Linked DNA regions of Homo sapiens. The protein of the gene in region 2 purifies or fractionates together with the protein of the main gene of each other region. This does not show direct contact. Each region holds a gene or a part of one and is shown on either strand. Other genes may lie near its edges.

What was found. Proteins that work in one complex are often made in the same cells at the same time.
Region 1: the proteins of SEC23A (region 2) and TTC1 fractionate together in Homo sapiens (co-fractionation; 2 studies listed by BioGRID). This does not show direct contact.

The regions. Positions count from the first base shown.
Region 1 is NC_000005.10:160,061,119-160,064,868, forward strand, and holds part of TTC1 (tetratricopeptide repeat protein 1), read left to right. Parts: intron 1-2,423; exon of another isoform or gene 2,424-2,538; coding exon of another isoform or gene 2,539-2,555; intron 2,556-3,750.
Region 2 is NC_000014.9:39,040,571-39,044,320, reverse strand, and holds part of SEC23A (protein transport protein Sec23A), read left to right. Parts: intron 1-1,448; coding exon 1,449-1,535; intron 1,536-3,433; coding exon 3,434-3,589; intron 3,590-3,750.

The DNA of each region.
Region 1 (3,750 bases), on a different chromosome or scaffold from region 2:
TGCCTGCCCCGCTTCAGCCCCATTGGACACACAGCTCGCCTGCCTATCTCTGTGCATTGGCTCACGCTGTTTGGGCTTGCACGGACAGCACCTCTGTCTCATATGGTTGCAGTCCTATGGCCTTTGGTGCCTGGTTCAAGTGTAAACTCTTAGACAAAGATAGACCAAATCTCTTCTTTCCTCCACCCCTTTCCTGTCTTCCTGCCCCAGCCAAAGGAATCTTCCCCTTCCTGACTCTCGTAGCATTTTATAACTCAGCTACATATGAATTTGGTTTTGTGTGTATGTCTTTTCTTCCTTGTCAAATTCTAAGCTTGTTTTGGTGTATAGACCATGTCATGTATCTTTGCATCTCTACCACACATAGCAAGGTGCCACACACATGTAATTAGTACATGTTGGTTGAATTAATCTATGTCAGGTGACCTTAGGTCTTCTCTAACGCAGAGACTATTTATTTGTGTGCCTTTTATTATGTGTCTACTACCTGCCAGGTATTATATATATGTAATCTCATTTAGAAAGCAGAATTTCGCATTTTCTTTTTTTTTTTCCCCCTTAAGTGATGGTCGGTGAAACTAATGTGAAATGTTATAAAGGCAGAGATACTGGAATTGAAGGAAAAAGAATAATTATCTATGTGTTAGTTTGGGTCATCCAAAAAACAGATGCCAAGATAGGATTAAAAGTACAAGAGATTTACTGGGGGAAACACCTGCAAGGGAAAATGGGGCTGGGAGCTGGAGGCTGTTGGCAGAGTTGGCAGACCCCTGTGGAGGAGGAAAGGCCGGGGGAGCGGGGAAGTTTTCCACTGGAGTGTGGTGCTGAGAAAGTTTCAGCAAAGCCATTGGGGAGCCAGTGCTGCCCCTCAGACGAGTCCCTCCCATGCTCAGGCATTGGCTGGAAGCAGCAGGTGGGAAGGGTGGCCTCTGCATGAATGTGCTGATGGATTTTAGAGTGCAGCCACTCTGTCCCCTGCATTTGGAGAAATACATCTTCATGACTGCCACACCATAGAATCAACCAAGCTAAAAGTTCAAAGGTGGCTTGTGGCACACAGGCCCTTTAGCCAGTTAGGCAAAACGAGGGCCTGGGAAAGAGAATTCTTCCTCTCGTCGGCAGTTTGAATATTTGCAGTCTTAGCTTGGAATGGTCTTTCTGCACTAGAGGGAAACCTCCTTTAGTGCAGACCAGCCTAAAGCCAAGCCATTGCTGCCTGAGGAAGCTGCCATCTCTGGAGCACGGTGACATGCCACCACCCTGGACCTATTCCCATCCCCCGGAGCACTGTGGCATGTAGCCTCTTCGTGCCACTGCAAGGTCAGAAAGCACCTCTGGGCACACCTCCGTCTTTTGGGTCTGCCTCCCCACTAGACTGAGCATTGTGCATAGAAGCTACTTTTATTCTTTACATCCCAGTGGCTTACATGATAGATGCCAAGTAAAATTTCCAGTTTGTACTTTAAATTGTTTTTCTGGCACTGGAGATGGGCTTGCAGTGATCCCTCCATCCATGTAATGGCCCTGGGCTCAGTGGACCATCCAGAGTAGGCTTCTCCACCATGGAGCTGCCCCTCCTCAGGAGTCTGATGTGAGTGGCTCTTGATACTCATTCTCACTTCACTCACTCCATATCACAAGAGCCAAGGATTTCCCAGTACCAACATTTTCTTGGGCTGCTTTTGATGGTTTTTTTTTTCCCCCTTCCTGTCCTCTTTTTCCAACCCCAGAACAAACTGCCAGCGTTCCTGGTTGGTGTTGCTAACTCAGGTCACCCTGAGGCTGCCCTGTCTTTCTCTTGCTTGTTGTGAGCCCCTCCCTCTACGCCCATGTGCCCGAGGCTGTGCCGCTGCCTTGTGCAGGCACCCAGGGTTTATGCCAGTGATTTCCTGACACAAGCAGCAGCACAGAACGTGTGTGTCCCAGGTTTAGGTTTGGGAGGCCTGCCTGGAGAACAGCCATCCCAGGTTCTGGGAGCTTTCTCAATTTACTGTTTTATCCAAAGATGGGTTGGCCTTTCTCTGGACATAGTGAGCTTCCTTGGGCTAGTTCTTAAGCCTGAGACTAAAAGTTCTCACCATGAGTTATTAGGGAGGCCTGTAAAATGTAAAGGCCATGCGTTTTTTTTGCTCTGTTACCCAGGCTGGAGTGCAATGGTATGATCATGGCTCACTGCAGCCCTGAACTCCTTGGGCTCAAGCAATCCTCCTAACTCAGCCTCTGCATAGCTGTGACAACAGGTGTGTGCCACCACACCTAGCTAATTTTTAAATTTTTGTAGATACAGGGTCTCCCTATGTTGCCCAGGCTGGTCTCAAACTCCTAGGCTCACATGATCCTCCTGCCTCAGCCTCCCAAAGTGCTGGGATTACAGGTGTGAGCCACTGCACCCAGCCAAGGCCATGCACCTTTAAGTTCTTTACCTGGGCTTTACTCTAAGATGGGAGGCCTCAGAGTGAGAAAAGCTGCTAAGAAGTGGGAAGGAGCCTGTACCTCTGGTGATTAGGGATTTCTCTTTTCGTCCACCCCCATTCTCACCTCCACTGGAAGTAGACCTGTAAGAAAAATTAAAGCAGTTTAGAAAGGGTTGAAACTGTTTATTCACCCATCCCTGCCAAAATTTTCTGGAACATTCCTAGTTTCAGATGTTCCTTATATCTTAAAACAGCATAAGAACTGTTTTTTGTTTTTAAAAAAAAAATTTGTAGAGATAGAGTCTCACTGCGTTGCTCGGGCTGGTCTTGAACTCCTGGGCTCAAACCCTCCTCTTGCCTCAGCTTCCCAAAGTGCTGGGAATACAGGCATGAGTCACCATGCTTGGCAAGAACCGCTGGCTATAGACCATGACTTTTTTTTTTTTTTTTTTTTGAGACGGAGTCTCACTCTGTCACCCAGGCTGGAGTGCAGTGGCGCAATCTCAGCTCACTGCAACCTCTGCCTCCCAGGTGCAAACGATTGTCCTGCCTCAGCCTCCCTAGTAGCTGGGACTGTAGGCGTATGCCACCACCCTCAGCTGATTTTTGTATTTTTTGTAGAGATAGGGTTTCATCATGTTGGCCAGGCTGGTCTCGAACTCCTGACCTCAGGTGATCCACCCATCTCGGCCTCCCAAAGTGCTGGGATTACAGGCGTGAGCCACCACGCCCATCCTATATACCTCACCCAAGTCGTGTAAATAAAGCCTGAAACTTGGGAAGAGGAGGCTGGACTATTGAGGTCTTATTGAGGTTGCTGTGCAAATCAAGATGATCCCATTTCTAAGAAATGGCTAGTCTGGTATAGAAGCTAAGGATTTGTTTAGGAAAGCAGGAAGCTCTTGAATATGAATCCAAGCTCAGTGGAAATGGGCTGAGTTGAATTACATTTAGCAGGTGGCTGCTGCCGTTCTAGAGAGAAGAGACTTGGAGGGACCTCTGCCCTCACTACCAGGCAGACCTGGCTTGGCAGGGTGCCTTGAGCCTCACTGGAACAGCAGTTGGTTTTCCCAGAACTCACCCCAGAAGCCTGTGTCCTCTGATAGCACTGGCCAGTTAGGACAGGAGGCTTTGATTCCCAGAGAGAGCCAGCAGGACTCCACTCTCATCTATGCAAGCACAGGCTGAGGGTGGATGGCATTAAAGTGACTGCACTGCTGAGTGGGGAATAGGGGCTGGGAACTCTCCTGGAAGCTTTCATCATATTAAAAGTAGGCATTTCTTTAACTGCAAAGAGATACTTTTATATTTTGTACTCAGTGGTAAGGCAAGATTA
Region 2 (3,750 bases):
GAATGTTTTAGAAGTAACTTTTTTTTCTTCTGAGTAATAACGTGCATGTAGACATCTGAAAAATGTAGAATGGTGTTTAGAAGAAAATTGGAATCCCACTGTCCCTAGTGCCTGCTCCTATTAAATTTCAACCTTTTCATTTAATCCATGAATCCTATCAGCTTCATGTTCTTAGGGTTTTGCTTTTGGAGTTATCTTCTTTCTGTTCTATATAATTACTTTCTGTCCATCTGGATCATTCTTATTAATTAACATAGAAACCATAACAACAGTCAGGTTTATAACAAACGGCCAAAACACCCCCACCATGACCCACGCTTTCTCTAACTGCCACCCCATTTCTCTGCTCCTGGTGAGAGTTGAACTCAAAAAAGTTATTTGTTGTTTATACTTTCTCACCTCACATTGTCTTCTCAACCTATATAAGTAAGACTTTTGTCCCTAACATTATATTGAAATGGCTCTTATAAAGACCACCAATGTCCTACATCTCACCAGAGCTCTCAACAGTATTTACCTAGTCTTCACTAGTACTCAGCCCTTGAAAACCTTTTGCCCTAGGCTTCTGTGACACCTATACCTTCCTGGTTTTCCTCTTACTCACTCACCGTTCTTTCTCAGTCTTTTGCTAGCTTTTCCCTTTCAGACCTCTAAGTGTTGACATGCTTAAGGGATCAATCTTCTGGCTTTCCCTGTCTTCCCTCTCAGTGATGTAGTCTAATCCCATTGCTTTAATCTTTGTGCTTTAATCTTTGTGCATGTGACACCTAGATTTATGTCATCAGTTCAGACCACTCCCTTTCATTTCATATGCAGAACTATTTTCCCATGTGCTCCAAATTTGCTCTATCCCAGGCCTTTCCCCATTTAGGCTTAGGAGTTATCCTTGAATTCTTCTTGACTTTACTCTATTTTTAAATTGTTTGTTACCTCAGCTTAAAGGGATTCCTTAAAAAATTAAAATACACTATAAGAATTCATAATAGCAAGAGATTTTAGGTAATAAAATATAAATTTCAAATTTAGGCCATCATGGCCTAAGTTTCAAATTTAGTGCTGAGCCTGTAATCTCAGCCTTTGGGAGGCTAAGGCAGGAGGATCACTTCAGCCCAGGAATTTGAGACCAGCCTAGGAAGCATAGTGAGACCCCATCTCTACAAACAAAAAAATGAAAAAACTAGCTGGACATGGTGTTACACACCTGTAGTCCCAGCTACTTGGGGGTCTGAGTTGGGAGGATTGCTGAAGCCTGGGAGTTTGAGGCTGCAGTGAGCTGAGATCATGCCACTGCACACCAGCCTAGGTGACAGAGCAAGACCCTTCTCCAAAAAAATAAATAAATAAATAAATAAAAGAAACTTGGAAAATAACCTGGAAACATCTATTTTATATTATTGAGTAGATTATTTTTCCTTTTTCCTCATTTCTCATTGTTTTCTTTACGTTAGCCGGTTCTTCTTGATAGCAGTAGCATTCTTGCAGATCGTATTCTTCTCATGGACACATTCTTCCAGATTTTGATTTATCATGGTGAGGTAAGATTTCAATAGCATTTAAAGCTATGCATGTAAAGTCTTTTTACTTAGAAAGGTTTTCTTACTTCTAATTGTATGGCTAGTGTTTCATCTATGATAAACTTTGATTTCCATTTTTATAAAATAATAAAATATGATGCTGCCTACTATAAGGTTTTAGGCTTCAATTGCAGTTGACCCACATGTGATTATTTTATTCATTTGTCACACAATTGGATTTTGCGCAAAGCACAGTGTTGTGAAAGTAAGAACACTGACTGTACATAGACAAATGGCACTTTTGGGTTTTACCTGAAAACATTAAGGGGGGAAAAGTCAGCCTTTGTCAGTGGGCAGGCTTTCCTTTTACGTTATGCAATCATTATAAGTTATTATTAAGTGTTCTACATGATCTTGAAAACTCATTTAAAGCATACATGAATTAAAATTTGTAACTTCATTGGAATGGTAAATGATTACAGAGAGCAGAAGATTTTAGTAGCTATTAAGCTTTAATCCAGGTATTTAGCAGACCTTGATGCATTCCTGCAGTTACTCATTCAGCCAATTGTTAAGTGCTTCCTCTGGATGCTTTGGAAGATATAGATGTGTTCTTTTTTCACAGATCTGTTCTCAAACTTACAGTCTAGTGTTTTACTAAGTTCTGCAGATTTATTTTTTCAGTTGCTTTAATTGTAAATGATTTTAGATTTGCACTGTGACTGGGTGTGGTGGCTCACGCCTCTAATTCCAGCACTTTGGGAGGCCAAGGCAGGAGGATTACTTGAGCCCAGGAGTTCAGGACTAACCTGGGCATCATAGTGAGACCCTGTCTCTACAAAAAAATTTTTAGAAAAGATTTGTACTGTAATAGTAAAGACATTACTCAAAATATTCTTTGAAGTAGTACTACCCAGGACTTTTTTTTTTTTTTTTTTGAGACTCAGTCTTGCTCTTTCACCCAGGCTGGAGTGCAGTGGCGCTATCTTGGCTCACTGCAGCCTCTGCCTCCCGGGTTCCAGCGATTCTCCTGTCTCAGCCTTCTGGGTAGCTGGGATTACAGGCACATGCCACCACGCCCAGTTAATTTTTGCATTTTAGTAGAGACAGGTTTTCACCATGTTGGCCAGGCTGGTCTCGAACTCCTGACCTCGGGTGATCCGCCCGTGTTGGCTTCCCGAAGTGCTGGGATTATAGGCGTGAGCCATCGCGCCCGACCTACCCAGGAGTTTTAAAAGATTTAATTATTATTATTGTAAATTATTTTTAATTGATACCAGTTTCTAATGCCCTTTACTTGTTAAGAATAATACCTGTTTTAACTTCTTGCCTTTGTTAAAAAAAAAAAAAAAACCTGTAATACTGACAGGGCTTTTTTTTTTTTTTTTTTTTTTTTTGCTTTTTCTTTGTTTTATGGTGATTTTTACTTTTTCAAGTAGCTTGTTAAAGGAGAAATCAGAAATGCACATGATTGTTTTATACAGAGGTATAAAGCTATAAAAGAATGTGTTGACTGATTCAGCTAACTTAGAAAATAAACCAGGCATAAGTTTTTAGATGATTTAATTACATGGTGTTTAGAGCTACTTACCTATGGATTGATTCAATTGCTTTCACGTATCATAAGCTTAGGTAGATAGCTTTTAGCTAACATTCATTTGATAAGCATAGTGTTTTAAAAATTTTCTGACTTATGTAAGTATTCTTTCATTTTACTTTTAAAGGAGAAGAAATATTCTAATTTTATATTTATTAAGAATATTTTCTCTACTGAAATTGTAACTTTTAAAAAATTGAGGTAAATGGAATAATGGTCTATAATTTTTTTAGTTTCTAAAGATTATTTTCTTTGGAAAAATCTCAAGATTTTTGGATGGGCAAGAAATTTAAAGTAATTTCTTTAATTGTTTTAAAATTAGACCATAGCACAGTGGCGGAAGTCAGGATACCAGGATATGCCTGAGTATGAAAATTTCCGCCACCTTCTGCAAGCCCCAGTGGATGATGCACAGGAAATTCTTCACTCCAGATTTCCAATGCCAAGATACATTGACACTGAACATGGAGGCAGCCAGGTAAGTAGTGTTAATTTGTTTGTGTGTTTGTTTGTTGTTAGGTTTGCAGTGAGGTGTACCTGCTTGCCTTCTGATTTTAATAGATTGCTTCATAAAGCAGACAGAAAGGTAAGGAGATAGGTGGGGAAGGTATCAGTGCTTACTTTTTGCATTAGCTTTTG